2 linked regions of the Homo sapiens genome follow. The protein of the gene in region 2 interacts with the protein of the main gene of each other region in a pairwise test. Each region holds a gene or a part of one and is shown on either strand. Other genes may lie near its edges.

What was found. Proteins that work in one complex are often made in the same cells at the same time.
Region 1: the proteins of FSTL1 (region 2) and GPC1 interact in a two-hybrid assay, tested with the Homo sapiens proteins (one study listed by IntAct).

What each region holds. Positions count from the first base shown.
Region 1 is NC_000002.12:240,431,087-240,438,667, reverse strand, and holds the start of GPC1 (glypican-1 precursor), read right to left. Parts: upstream 3,006-7,581; 5' UTR 2,750-3,005; coding exon 2,584-2,749; intron 1-2,583. UniProt on the Homo sapiens protein: Cell surface proteoglycan that bears heparan sulfate. Binds, via the heparan sulfate side chains, alpha-4 (V) collagen and participates in Schwann cell myelination.
Region 2 is NC_000003.12:120,405,993-120,413,013, reverse strand, and holds part of FSTL1 (follistatin-related protein 1 precursor), read left to right. Parts: intron 1-1,030; coding exon 1,031-1,160; intron 1,161-2,029; coding exon 2,030-2,062; intron 2,063-3,351; coding exon 3,352-3,482; intron 3,483-7,021.

The DNA.
Region 1 (7,581 bases), on a different chromosome or scaffold from region 2:
GCCACACACCCAGGGCCAACTGCTCTCCTTCCCACGAGGAAGTATCAGATCTCTACCCCACCTGCTCCGGGCCAGCGAGGTGCCCAACCCCAGGGGGTTCGCATTCCCTCTGAGGAGGTCCCCCTGGAGAAGTCTGGATGCAGGAGAGAGGGGACTGAGAATGGTGCCTACTAGGCCACAGAGGGTCCAGGGCTCCTGGGAGGATCTGCCGCCCAGGGGCCACCAGAGGGCGCCCGTTCCACGGAGCCCAGGCCCAGCCGACAAAGCAGGAGGGGACACTGGGCTTGGCTGCCCCAGGACTGCTGCGACCCGAGGGAGTCACCCTGTTTCCCTCAGCCCACGTGGCTCCCACACTGTCTTCTGTACCCTGGGTCCCGAAGGTTACTCCCCACTTCTGCAGCCATAGGGGGTGCAGGGAGAGAGGTTCCTGTCGGAGGGGCACCGACTGGAGAGGCAGTAATCCTGCCCAGTGCAGTCCTGGCCTTGCAAGTCTGGAGGAGGGTGGCACCCCGAGCCCTGGCAGCAGGCACTGGCCCATGGCTGGCACCGTGGTTAGACAGCTGCAGGGCGTTCGTACTCCCCACGCGGGGTGGACAGCATCCCCTGCCCCATCAGACACAGAGAAATCAACACAATCTGCCTGTCCTGGGTCCCTAACCCACTGCATTCCCCAACCCAAGAGCAGCACGACCCACACTCTCTGGCCCAGCCCCACATCAACTTCTCCATCTTGTCCTGCCCTCTCTTCTCACCCTTGGGAGATGGCCAAACTCTGCCACTCTGTCTCTCTAACTGGCAACAGTGGCCTGTGGATGCAAGGAAGGTTAGGTTGGCTCCTAAGGATGCAACTGCCCAGAGGACATGGAGGTGCTAAGAAGGGCTGGGGGCTAATGGTTTCCAAAGGAGCAGGGTTCAAGACTCTGGGCTGGGAGGGGCAGCCACTCAGCCACTCTGCTACCCTGGTGCCTGGGGAGGGATTCACCAGGAAGGCCAGGGATGCCTCTTTATGTGTGAGTAGAGGGGCAGAGAACGAACCCAACTGTGCCGAGGGCCTTGTGCTGCCTGGCATCCAGGTGTGCCCCCTACCTGGGACAGACAGAGCCCAGTGGGGTGAGGGGGGCAGCCTGGAAATGACAGGGTTGCCTCTGCAGAGGCACAGGAAGGCCTGTCCTGGGGACTTTGGAGGGGTCCTTGCAAGAACCTCAGGCTGGTGGGGAGGGCATCGGGAGATCCGCCAAGGGACTGTCTGCGGGTTCTGTTCCTTCTGTGGGGGGCGGTCAGGGGGCCCTTACAAGAACCTCAGGCTGGGGGCATCGGGAGATCCACCAAGGGCAAGGGGCTGTCTGTGGGTTCTGTTCCTCCTGGAGGGGCAGGGGTCCAGAGCCCGACTGCCTCCTCCCACCACTCCGCCCCCCGCGGCAAGGCATGGCCACAGACCCCCCTCACCCAGATGCACGGATCCTTCTTGCTCAGAATCCCCAGGACCATGGGCATTTCTGCGCTGAGTCCCCATCTGAGTAGCCCTCCACCCGCACTCCCACTCCCCTGGTTTCAGAGGAGCCCCCCAGAGCAGGAACCTAGTCTGTTTTGTTCTTGCCCACTGGGTCCCTGGCACGCGGTACAGACCGAGGTTGGTTCCCACACGTGGAAAGGTGAAGCTTGGGTTCCAAGAGTTCCTTAGCACACGGAGCCCACCGTTCCACCCACCCGTACACTTCTGTCCCCAAAGCTCCTCCGGGACCACAGGGAGGGAAGAGGCAGAGCCGCAGGCGGCTGCAGGGCTTAGGGGGCGCCAAGAGGGCCGCTGTTCTTACAAAGAAATGACACGGCCCCTGGGCGGGATCCAACGCGCCGACCACCTGCAGCTGGACTCGCGGCACGAGGCTGCCCAAGCGCCAGGCGGGGGCCGGCGCGTACAAGTTCTTCGACAGGAATCTCTACGAGGCGGCGGCGTTCCGCCCGCGGATAAGTGCCCAGCTCCCTCCCCACCCCTCCGCACTACCCCCCGAGGGGGTCAGCTTATAAAACCCACCTAGGCTGCCTTTGCTGGAGACCCTACGAGAATCCCCGGGCAGGACCGGAGACGCCTCCCAGAGAGGTCTGTACAGAGCAGAAGGGGTCCGCGGCCACCGTCAGCGGCGCCCCGAAAGCCCGGCCACGCCGAGCCCCACAGCGCCCCGACAGCCGGCCCCGGGGCTGGGACTCCCGGCCTGCAGGCGCGCTGGGCCGAGCGGCGGGCAGAAGACGCCCAGCTCCAGCCGTGGCCCGGGAGGAGCGCCCCGAGCCCGCAGCCCGGCGAGATCAGCTCCGCAGGGAAGAAGCCGGCGTGCGGGGGGCGGGGAGGGGCGGAGGACGACCGAGCGGGGCGGAGGAGACCCTGGCGAGGGAGTGCGGCGCGGGGCTTGGAGGCGAGGGCCGTGGGGTTGCAGAGGAGCCGCAGCGCAGGGAGCCATTCGGGGCCCGGGCGGCGGGGCGCAGGCGGCAGGATCCCGCGCCGGGGGCGAGTAGCCGCGTCGGGAAGACCAGGGTCCGGAGCCCAAAGCCCGGCCAGGCCCGGGTTCCCGGCGCCGCGCCCTCACTCACCCGAGATCTCCGCCTGGGGCACGTCGCTCAGGCTGAAGCCCTTGGCTCCGTAGATCTGGCGGACCTCGCCGCAGCTCCGGCTCTTGCTGGCCGGGTCCCCGCGGGCGCAGGCGACCAGCGCTGCGGCCGCACATAGCAGCCACCAGCCTCGGGCCCGGAGCTCCATGGCGGGGCCGGCGGCGCCCCCGGCCACCCGCCCGCGCCTCTCTCGGATCCTGGCCGGGTCCTGCGCAGTTCCCGCCCGCGAAGGGCAGAGCCAAGGTCCCGGCGCGCGCGGCTCGCGGTCCAGAGGCGGCGGCGGCCGAGGAGGCGGAGACAACAAAAGCCGGCGGCGGCGGCGGCGCGGGGCGCGCGGGGTGCGAGGTCCGAACGCTCGCTCGGGCAGCCCAGAGCGCGGCGGGCTAGCGCAGTCCCGGCTCGGCGCCTCCCCCGCCGCCGGCCCGGCCCCTAGGCGGCCGCGGGAGAGGAGAGGGGCGGGGCAGGGTGGGAGCGCAGGGGTGGGGGAGGGACTGGGAGCACCGGGCGGGGCGGGGCGGGGCGCGGCGCGGGGGCGCGGGCCGGGGCGCACTGGGCGCTCCTCTGGCTCTTAGGGACCCAGAGGGCCCGCCTGGCCGCGCGACTCTATCGATCCCCGGCGGGAGGCGGCGGAGCCGGGCAGCGCGGGGCCGCGGCCGGGGTCCCCGAGGGCGGCCCCCCACGCCCAGCGCCCAGGGCGGTGGCACCACCTGTGGGGGCGGGGACGGGGGCGGAGGGTGCGCGAGGCAGGGCTTCCCCCGCCGGACGTGACATCACGCCTCCCGCGCCCCAATCAGGGGCCTCCCCGCCCCCAGCCGAAATCGGCATCCCGCTCCCCGCTCCCTCCCGCGCGCTCCGGCTTCCTGCACCCTGGCAGCGCGCCCCGAGAACGCTCTCCCGGCGCCTCCGTACCCTCCGCCCGCCGGCCGCGCCTCGAGCCGCCGCCCCTCTCCCCGCCTGCACCCCGCAGCGGCTCCCTCCCCGCGCCCTTCCAGCCGTCTCGCGCTGGGCTCCGGCTCGCACCGGGGGCTTTTGTGGTGTGGGGGCTGCACGCAGGAAACTCGCCAAGAAACTCGACCTCACCTCTCCCAGTCCCAGGGAGCGGCAACAGATGGCTTAATTGTTGGACCTTGACAGCTGTTTTGGGGGGGTGACCCTCCACGTTCTTTGGATGCTGGAGAAACCAAAGTGATGGGGCAGGGCCGGTCTACTGGTTTGGGCTGCTGGGTGGGGCCAGATGACCTCTGGAGAAGGGATAGGGTTGGAACCCGGCGACTAGTTAGGCCACTGGGGGAGGAGGGTGGAGTGAGCCGGAGCAGATGCCTCTTTGAAGAAGGCGGGAGGGCTGCCTGCACCTTGTATGGTAGGAGGGCGCGTGGCTTTAGCTGCACATGGGGAGTTGGGCTGGATGGGGTCTGTAGGGAGGGGGCGAGGACTGCGATGTTGGTGTCTGGAGGGCTTCACTCCTTCCTTGGCTCCCAGACCCCCCACCCCGGCCCCCTGTTCTCCACATGGTAAGGCCTGGCGGTGAAGCCAGGTGCCTGAGCTGCAGAATTGGGGGCAGGCATAGAGGTCAGTATCCTTGGCAGAGAACCTCAAGATGACCCCCATGTACAGCAAGGGTGTCCTGATTTCAGGGCCTGTGGCATCACCTGGAAGCTGCAGCGGGGTCCGTGGTGGGGGTGGTGGCAACATTCCCTACCCCTTCTGTGCCTGGGGCTCTCAGCCGCTGTGTGGGGCTGGAGCAGGAAGGTGGGGTGCCCTCCCCCTGGGCTCTTGGGGTTTCCTGCCCTGCCTCCCAGAGAAGGTTGCTCCTTCACCCAGAGACACTGAGTCATTGCTGGAGAGGGAGGCTTTGGGGACCCAATCCAAGTGTGCATTTCCCTGCCCTCCCCCACATACCCTCTGCTGCGTCACATTTTGTGACTCACAGACCCCTGTTCAGTACATGCTCCAGGCTTGCTCCTTCTTGCCTGGGCCTGGCGTGGCTGCCTGCACACCTTATCCAGCACGGTCAGGAGCCTGGGCCCACGATCCCGCTCTCTCTCTGTGTGGTCTCACGCACTGCGGGATCAGGCAGGGCTGCCTGGGCCTAGGAAGCTGGACTTGAGGTTAACCCGGCCTGAGGCTCTATAGTTACCCCGTCACTGTCTACGCCTCCTCTTAATCTGACCAGGTTGGGTTATTCCTCCAGGCAAGTCCTTCCTCCAGCCTAGTTCTGGGCCTCTGGATGGCAGTGTGGACAGCAGGGCTTAGAACGCGATGGTGGCAGCCTCTGCCTGGCCCTGGTGACCCCTGGGTGGCTTCATCTCCTAAGGAAGTCCTTACCACCATCGCAGGTCCTGGAATCATTCCCATTCCGCAGGCCAGGAGACCTGTAGCCAGGGCCTTCCCTGGAGAGGATGCACATGCCGCCGGGGGCATTGGAAGCAAAAGCCGTGTTTGCACCTGGGAGGAGCCGCAGGATCCTGAGCAGCTGCAGCTACCCCTGCTTCCCTCCTGGCAATGCTGCACACGCCCGCTGTCACCAGGGCAGGAGCCGCCAGGCTGCCCGTGCTAGTCGGGTGCAGGGTCCAGACTGGGACTCTGGGAGGATGGGCAAGGCTGATCAGCCCCCTCTTCCACCGCTGTCCCTGGGGCCGCTCCACACAGGACACGTGGATGGGTTTGAGGACATAGTTGATGCCTCGAATCCCAGCCACCACAGTGACCCTTGTGGCTCTGACCAAGACCACCCCCTCCTGCTTTGGTGTCTTTGCCTGGCTAGACAGTGGGGGCACACGTATGCGACACAAAGAAGGAATGAATGAGCAAGTGAGGAAACACCTGAGAGGAAAAGTTTGTCCCTGAGAGTGGGCGTGTGGCGCAGCCTGGACCTGCTCTTCCACAGGTGCAGTGAGGGCAGAGGACACTTAGCATTGTCTGACGGGCTGAGGCAGGCAGTGCCTGTTGGGCCAGGGCGTGGGGGCCTCCCTTCCATGCCCCCATCTTCTGTGGAGGACCCCAGGTCCTGGAGGGCGTGTACTGCTGGCTTAGGGCCCACTCCTGCCTCTGCCTAGGGAGGGTGGGGGTCTGCGGGATGCTGAGCCTGGTCTCTGCTCAGAAGACACAGGGAGCGCCGGGGGGCCCGCAGCTCCCAGCCGTTCGGACGGCAGGTCTGCCCAGAAATTATCCTACTTTTGCTCCGTGGAACCCTCGTGAGTGTGCACGCCCTTGCCCGCTGCCATGGACGGACAGCTTCCCTTTCTGTTTGGTTTCAGGGATTGTCTTTCGGAGACTCCAAAAGTAAGTTTCCAAACAGACTGAGCGATTGTTGTCGCTGCCATCCATGGCTGCCTTCTTGTGAATGTCACTGCCTGTAGCATCCCTACCTACGAGAGCCCTGTCCTACTGGCCGTGGGAGGCAGGAGTGCGCGCGTGTGCCTGCAGACAGCAGGGGTTCAAGGGCGTGGACTAGGGCTGGCTGGGATGTGGCATCTGATCTGTTAGAGCACCCAGGAGGTGTTTTGGTGCCCTGGGGCATAGTGGAGGATGTAGGGTCCCCACACCTCTGTGGGGGTCTGGGGACCCCTTGGGCAGCAGCCTGAAGGAGGAAGTGGATACCCCAGCATGTGGCTGATGAAGGGAACATGGTCCCCAGGAGTGGCTGGCAGCCCTGGGCAGAGCAGGGTGGGCAGGACAGCCTGCCTGCAGAGCTGGAGATCTTTCTGCAAATGGTAATCAGGGTGCCTGCCAGAAAGAAGCGGGGCTCTGGGCAGCTCTACAGGGCTTAGCGATGGGGAGGGGATCTGCCCCAGGGCCTGCTCTGGCCCATGGACTCCACCTCCAGCTCACCCCGTGCTTCCTGCCCTGCCTTTTGGTGGTGACACTTGGGGAACATTCATCCGGTCTCTCATTCTGGTGCTGGCTCAGGGAGCCGCTGTCATCTCATGAAGGAGCTCGGCTCCAGACGACCCTGCAGGATTGTACTCGTGTGGGGTCTGTGAGGTGGGGTGCTGGTCCCTGCTCTGCCTGGACACTCAGTGGTACCCTGGAAGGTCTTCCAGCCCTGAGCCAGGACCCTAATCTACAGGAGTTCGGCTTTGAGTCTGAACCCTAGGGCTGCCCTGGCTTCCCCAACTTAGGGGCTGCCACTGGGCAGTGAGGGTGGGTGGACAAGGGCGCCAGCTGGGCAGAGTTTGCAGGACTGAGAAAACCTGGCACCATTATTCTCAAAGGAGGTCATACCTGCACCTCCCTCCACCTCTCTCCAAGCCCCTGCCGTGGGGCAGTCAACTTGAAGGTGAAGCTGTTTGGAGCCTGCTCTGCTCTGCTGGGTCCTTTTGATCAGCAGAAGTCTGGGCTGGCCTCCCTTATCCAGGTCAGAGGAGAGCAAGCCTTTTCAGTGAGGCTGGGTCACCCGTGTGGTAGGTGGGGTCAGAAGAATGCACCTGTGGCCCCTCCAAGAGCTGGCACCTGTTTCTCTAGTCTGAGGACCCTGGTAGCAAGAGATGACCCCAAACACTCCACTCTGGGCTGAGCTGGGTTTGGCCTTCCCTGTGGCTGTTTTCCTGCCCCTCCCCACCCTGACTCTTGGCCTGGTCTCCTTGAGGAGAGGGAGCAGATGGGGGCACTCCGGCACTGTCTGCTATGTTAGGACAAAGCACCCCACACACCTGGAGCTCAGAGACCCACGTGCACGCTTTGGTGTCCCCAGCACCAGCAGCTCATGGCTTTCCTGCCAGGTCCTGTCTGCTCTGTGTGTGGCTCCTGCCCTTCCCTCCACCTCTCCCCTTCTGGACCATTGCTGGCTTTTGACCTATTCCTCCTGCAGTCCATACTGCCTGGCTGATCATTTGAAAACCAGCTTCAATCCGAAGCCTGCAAGGACTCTGAAGATCAGAATGCAGCTGCCCTCAGCCACAGTGCAGGAGCCCCTGAGCCTCCCCCTCCTCTCAAGGGGTCCAGGAAGCTGAACGTTCTTCCCCTCCCCATTCAGATTCC
Region 2 (7,021 bases):
CTGTAGTACTTCACAAAGACCCAGGCAACCCTACTCCTAGCTTCACAACAAAGGCTTGAGATCAGGAGGAAAACAAAGTGTTCCCCCAATAGTATATACAGCAAGAGATCCTTACAGTTAGGCTGCAGAAGAATTGGAGTGTGTGTGTGTGTGTGTGTGTGTGTGTGTGTGTGTGCGCGCGCGCGCGCGCGCGCACATGTGTGTGTGTTTGCCTGCCTGCCTATCAGCCTCTCCACATTCCCAGCTCTCAGCTCTGGCTGTTTTGTGTCATTGAATGTTGGAATATTAAGGGATCTTAGATCTTCTGAGACATTAAATTACTTTTTCCAAAGTGACAGAGAATTCAAATTTCTGGCTTTTAATAAAACGCCCTTTCTGCTCATTTGATGTGGGGGGTGTCTTTGTTTGTTTGGGCTGCTATAACAAAATATCTGAGATTGGGTAATTAATAAATAATAAGAATTTAATTCTCACAGTTCTGGAGGCTGGGAAGTACAAGATTGAGGTGCAAGCAGATTTGATGTCTGGTGAGGGCCTGGTCTCTAACTTCCAAGATGGCACCTTGCATGTGGCATCCTCACATGGCAGAAGGCAGAAGGGCCAAAGGGCCAAATGCTGTAGGAAGACTGTTTTATTCACTTCTTAACCTCATCCACAAGGGAGGAGTCCTCATGACCTAATCACCTCCTAAAGGCCTCACCTCTTAATACTTTTGCATTGTGGATTAAGTATCAACATGAATTTTGGAGGGATCACAAACATTGAAACTATAGAGGGTGTCTCTTTCTTCACTGAATAGAAGAGATGACCCTGGACCAGGATAGGCATGAAGGGCCATAGGCAACTGAGACAGGGTCAGTTGGCCAGAACTGTGACTGCCTGTGCCCTGATGGGGTAGAAGCACCATCTCTGGTGGTGGAGAGTCCCCTTACAAAATGGCTCTGTGTGTGTGTGTGCATGTATGTGTGTGTGTGTGTCTGTGTGTCGATATCCATAACTGCACAAACATTCTCTTTTGGGTCTGTTTCAGCAATGCAAACCTCACAAGAGGCCTGTGTGTGGCAGTAATGGCAAGACCTACCTCAACCACTGTGAACTGCATCGAGATGCCTGCCTCACTGGATCCAAAATCCAGGTTGATTACGATGGACACTGCAAAGGTAAGGTGTGCTCTCACCACTGCAAGGCAGCTTTAGCCACGGGGAGCCAAGGAACAGAGCAGTGTGGCCTGGCTGACCACATGGTCTTTCCTCCACGACCACAGCCTCTCAAAGCTGTGGAAAGCGCCCAGTTGGTTGGAGTTGCATCCTCTTGTCACTTATGAGCCTGCTGGGTTTGCCCTGGATGGCCCAGGCCTCTGCCCAGGGTTTGCTATATCAGATCCCCATGGGGGTTTTCAGCACTGTCTGCAGCTGGATAGTAGATAGGGTGGACCCCATCAGTAAATCAGTAACAATAAGAAAGTTCCTTAAATGAATTATGTACCTTTTTAGAAAGTAGGTAAGTTTCACTTTTCCCATGCTTTTTAATTTGGGCACCTCTCAGTATTGTTTCCTCTATTTTGCACTGAAACCACTGCCATTAGAATAAGAAGGAAGAAGTCCCACACTTGTTGCTAATTAGATACCAGCCCCCTGCCAAGCCATAGCCCTGCCCAGCCCCTCTCAGCCTTGCCCTTCCTTGAAGAAACAAGAAGCTGTTTCCCAGGTGATTGTCTCCACTCCATTCCCTGTCCAGAATGATTCTCCATTTGAATTCTCAAAATCCCAGTGACCCCTCAATGCAACAGGAGGAGGTATGAGGCCAGAAGGGTAACTCAGTGGCCCTAAATTGTCAGACAAAGCAGGAGACAGAAGATCCTCATACCTGGGCCCTAGAAGAAGGAAAGGAAGGGAAAGGATTCAAGACAAAATGATGAAAAGGTTACAAACATTCCCCTACATGTAGAGCAGCTGTAATCCTAGAAATACAGAAAAATTTTCTTTTTTCCTTCACTTCGCATTACACGTTTTCTCTTTTTGTCTTGCAGAGAAGAAATCCGTAAGTCCATCTGCCAGCCCAGGTGAGTGCCTATTTTTTCTACTGTGTGCATCTCAGGGAGGACATTCTTTTCATGATAGAAATTTTGTGTTCCACAATCCCTGCCAAGCTCATAAGATCTTCTATGCATCAGAATTGTGTCCCAGAACTGGCCACTCCTCAACACAGCTCAGAAAAGCTGCAAAACTACATTTGTGTATGTGTTTGCCAATTGAAGCAGCTGGTTGGGTCAGAATGTTGGCTGTGTTTTCCCATTTTTCCTGAGTAGTGATTGAACTGCATAAACAGGAAAGCCACTGAGTTCATTTTTCAACATCCTATAAGACATGCTCGTGTCATGGGACCAGCAAATAGAAGGCACAACTCTTTTTGAAAGGGGATAACTGGAAATGCCAGTAAGACTTCTGTGGTTTTCTATTAGTGATCACTAAAATTTTATCATGATTTATAGTTACAGAGCTTTTTTGCACATACTTTCCTTAGATTCTCACGGTAGCCTTTGTGAAGTAGATCTTATTGTAATTACCATATAGATGAGGAAATTGAGGCTCAAAGAGGCTAAGTGAGTTTTCTATATCACACAGCTAGTAATTGGCAGACTGGGGAAGAACTCCCAGATTTTCATTCCCCTGGCCCAGTGCCCTTTTCACCCACAGCATGTGTTGTCTTCCAGGAATTCTCTTTTGCCAAAGCTTTCTCTCCTCTGCTTCCCCATCCACTCAACTCTCAGCACCCCCTGTTATTTCCAGTGGACAACAGCTGTCCAGAGCAGGGCTTCGACGTAGCCCTCACTGGCCTTCACATTCTGTTGTTCATAATAAAGGATGATGCAGGTGGTATACAGTTGTAAGTGGGGGGAAGTTTGGATGGACCTAGTTGGTGAGAAAGGGAGAAACTGGAGAAAATCAGAAATCTAGTAGCATAAAAACTGTAATATTCTCATTTATTCATGTATTATTTCAGCTCATCTTTGAGTCAAGAGAGCTGCTTTATTGATTTTTTCCCCTTCAGCTTCCTAAAGTTAATGAAAGTATCCTTTATTATTTTTCTGCTCTAGTTATTTCTCACATAAGCAGCAAAATCTCTCTGTTTCAATATTCTCAATCTTTACAAATATTTTAGAGATGGGTGCTTGAATCCTGGGCTAGACTTTTTCCAGTTGTGTACCCTGGATGTGCTAATCCTATCTCCCTGTGTTGCTGGGATGACATATGCAGAACCATGGGCACGGATGCTCCCACACAGTGGGTGCCAGATATCACTGGGGTCCTCCCCTGACTGCTCCAGCTGACATCCTCCACTTTCCTGCAGTTGTTTGCTATCAGTCCAACCGTGATGAGCTCCGACGTCGCATCATCCAGTGGCTGGAAGCTGAGATCATTCCAGATGGCTGGTTCTCTAAAGGCAGCAACTACAGTGAAATCCTAGACAAGTATTTTAAGGTAATCCAGAGGTAGGAGGAAGACTATTCAGGCCCATAGAAAGGGAAGCTTCCTCCTCCCATTGCCCGATCACACCTTCCCAGACCACAGGAAATGTAAACCTGCACAGACACCCTGAGTTTCCTCATCATAGATCATTCATGAAGCTGTGAAAGTTGCCTTCTGACCAGCTTGATCAGTGGGAGTAAGCAGTGGAGTCTTTGGGATCTAACACACATGTGCTGCTGCCTTCAGGCAGTGAAAGCCACAAAGGTCTTGGAGAACCTGTCAGTTAGGGCCAAGCTCTGTCCCCTACTCGCCATGACACCTTATGGATCTGGCTGTTAATACAAAATTCCCTCTGATTGCACCCAGACCTGGACCACTTTGGCCTCTTTCCTGCCTAGTTTGACATTTCTCTAAGTCATTAACTTGACTGCCAATGGCTTGGAGAGAGTCTTCATATGAGAAGAATCAATGGACTGGCATTTCATGGGTCCAGAGATTGTTCCTGAACTTAGATATTGCTGTTCCCAATCATAATTAGTTGAAGAGACAGAGTGTTCCACTTGGGAGCAGGAGAGATGCTATTTTCACAAAGAGAAATGAAGGAAGCTATAATATTTAGTGATGGCTCGGGTTATCATGCCATGCAGATCTTTCACAGAACTTGAGAGTTAGAAGAAGCAATTAAGGGCATTCTTACAGCTGATTGACAAGAACAGACACACACACAGGTACATCACACTCAGAATATCACACTCAGAAGCACAGAGAAGGACACACTTAAACTCAAAACATGCCAGACACGCACACACACACCACATACAGAGACTCACATGCCACACAGAGACACATCCTACATGCAGACACATTCAGATACCCACATTTCCATGCAAGCACCAAAGCCCTCTTCACTAGGTAGATGCCCCAGCCATCTACTCCCTCACATGCTTCCAGGGCCCAACCCAGCCAGGACTCAGGAGCAACTTCAGACACATGAAGGACTTTTCTTGGCAGCTCTGAGGCCACCTAATGTGGCCAATGCCAGTCTAGTCTGTGGATTTCTCTTTCTGACACTATAGAACCCGCAGATGAAGAAATACTGGGTTGGCTTCAAATGGATATTTGGTCATTTAAGACTTCACTTGTGTCATTTTTACATAGAGATTTCTCTCCTCTATGGCAGATACTAAATCTCTGGATTCCAAGTTTTTGAGATCATACCCAGATGAAAAAGCACAGCCTTTCTTGCTCTGTCCTCTCTCTCAATCACTCCCACATTACAGAGCCCTTAGAGGAAGAATGGTTCCTCTTCTACAGAAAAACACATCATAGTGCTGAGCCAGGAGACTTGGACAGGAACAGAAAGTAATGTAAAGAAAGTGACTGTTCAAAAGCTGAGCGAATGGTAAAGGTACCTGCAGGGCCTGCTGTGTGTGAGCAGTGACTTTGCCCTGCAATTACAGCATAGGAGGTGTGGGGCCCAGGACACTCCTTCCCAGGGGCCACTTAGGACGTTGTAACCATTTTTTAGTGGCCCTTTGATGGCACTCTGCCTCAGGCATCACTGACACCTGCTATTAGATTTGATTCCCAAGAACCTATGCCACATTCCCCTCAACACATCTCCATCTCCTCCAGCAGTAACTCACTTTTACAGGCTCCCTTCTGAAAGCTATAAGGCCCTTTGGGAAAGTAGCTCTTCTCTAGGACATTCTCACAACCAGGCATCTAAGAAAGCTTGATCATGACTGACAGACACAAAATCCCCTCTTCCCAGACACTCTGGCAGTGTCTAACAGGAGAAAACAGGTTTCATTTTCTACTTTTTGATGATTATCAGAGTCTTACATGCTGCTGTCTTCAAAGGGAGACTGCCTCCTCCTAGGTCAGCAGCTGCCTGTTGGTGAGAGGTCTGATATCTCAAAGAGACTGTTATGAACCAATGAAATGCTCCCCAGCCCAGCTGGCATTTCTTACATCAAAATTGTTCAAAAACCAAATTGAATTAGAATTTGAATAAGGCCAAAATCTGACTTTCACCATAACCAGTGATGTAGTCACTGTTTCTTAGGTGAAAGCGTAACAGAATGAAGAAAGAAAGACCCAGGTAGAAAGAGCCTTCCATGCTCTTGGAATTTGGAATCTAATCCATTCCTAATTTCATCTGGGTGTGATCTCAATCCCTGTGGCTCCTGATGGCCAGGGCTGACACTTGAGCCAGCCTTCTTATCTCCTTTACCCTGGCACCACAGCCCACACAGCCCCAGCTGCTGTGCACAAGCAAGTGCCTGTCTCAGCCCATCTCCTCTGAAGAGTCTCCAAACTTACATTGATAAGCCCCAAGAACAGATCTCATGACATACATCTTTTCTGCCTTTCCACAACCCTACAGTTAGATAGAGGAAAAGTTTTGTTACCTCAAATGCTGAAATCTGAAACTTTTTGAGCACCAACATGATGCCATAAGTGGAAAATTTCACACCTGAATTCATGTGATGGGTAGCATTCAAAACACAGTCAAAACTTTGTTTCATGCACAAAATGATTTAAACTATTGTATAAAATTACCTTCAGGCTATATGTGTAAGGTATATAGGAAACAGGGATGAATTTCATGTTTACATTTGGATCCCATCCCCAAGATATCTCATTATACATATTTAAACTTTCCAAAATCTGAAATCTGAAACACTTCTGGTCCCAAGCATTTCAGATAAGGGATAATCAACCTGTATAGAGCTGGGGAAAGAGGCACAGAGAGATATTATGTCTTTGTAACTGACTGGCTGAAGAGAGGCTCAATAAATTAGGTTGGTTCATGGTCCATGATTAGGACCTCACAGGCAGACCCCCCAGGCATTCCAGGCTATTTCTGGGGCAGGCACCAGAATTCTGTGTTCCTGTGGATTCTACATACAACTCTGGCCTGGGGAGGCCCAACTGGACCCTCATGAGTTGAGAAAGCACATGGGCTGGACCTTCCCCCAGCTGCAGGCCTTATTCTAGTCCTACTGAAGTGTGTGTACACAGCACTGCCTTTTGAGAGCTGCCTGGACTGTGGTTGCCAGGTTCATGGTGCCCACTTGGGCCATGTGGCACTGGGTCTGTAGCTAGTGCTGGACGTTTCCCCTCCCTACACTCATTCCATCATCAGGCCCTGATGACACTGGAGTCTTTGAGGGTTGCTGTCATTTACCCAGCACATGCAATATTTGAACTCAAGAAAGCCCTGTGCTACTAACAATGGCCCCCAGCCAAACTTATTTAATTATTTTCCATTAATTAATCAAGACTTCACAAGGTAAACAGGGAAGTTTCGTCAGGGAAAATTGTATAGTGAATAAAGGACATCAGAGACCTGTTCCTAGGAATTAGGACAAGAATGATAAGTACGTACTAAGCAAAGGCCTAATAGTTGTTTCATGCACACCTTCATTATACAACATTAGAGTGGAACACCTGTGACACATGGCAAGCAGGAGAGGAGAGTTGTTAGCTACATCTTCCCCTTCTATCTAGAAATTTGGATAGATGTTTCTTCCAGAATCCCTTGC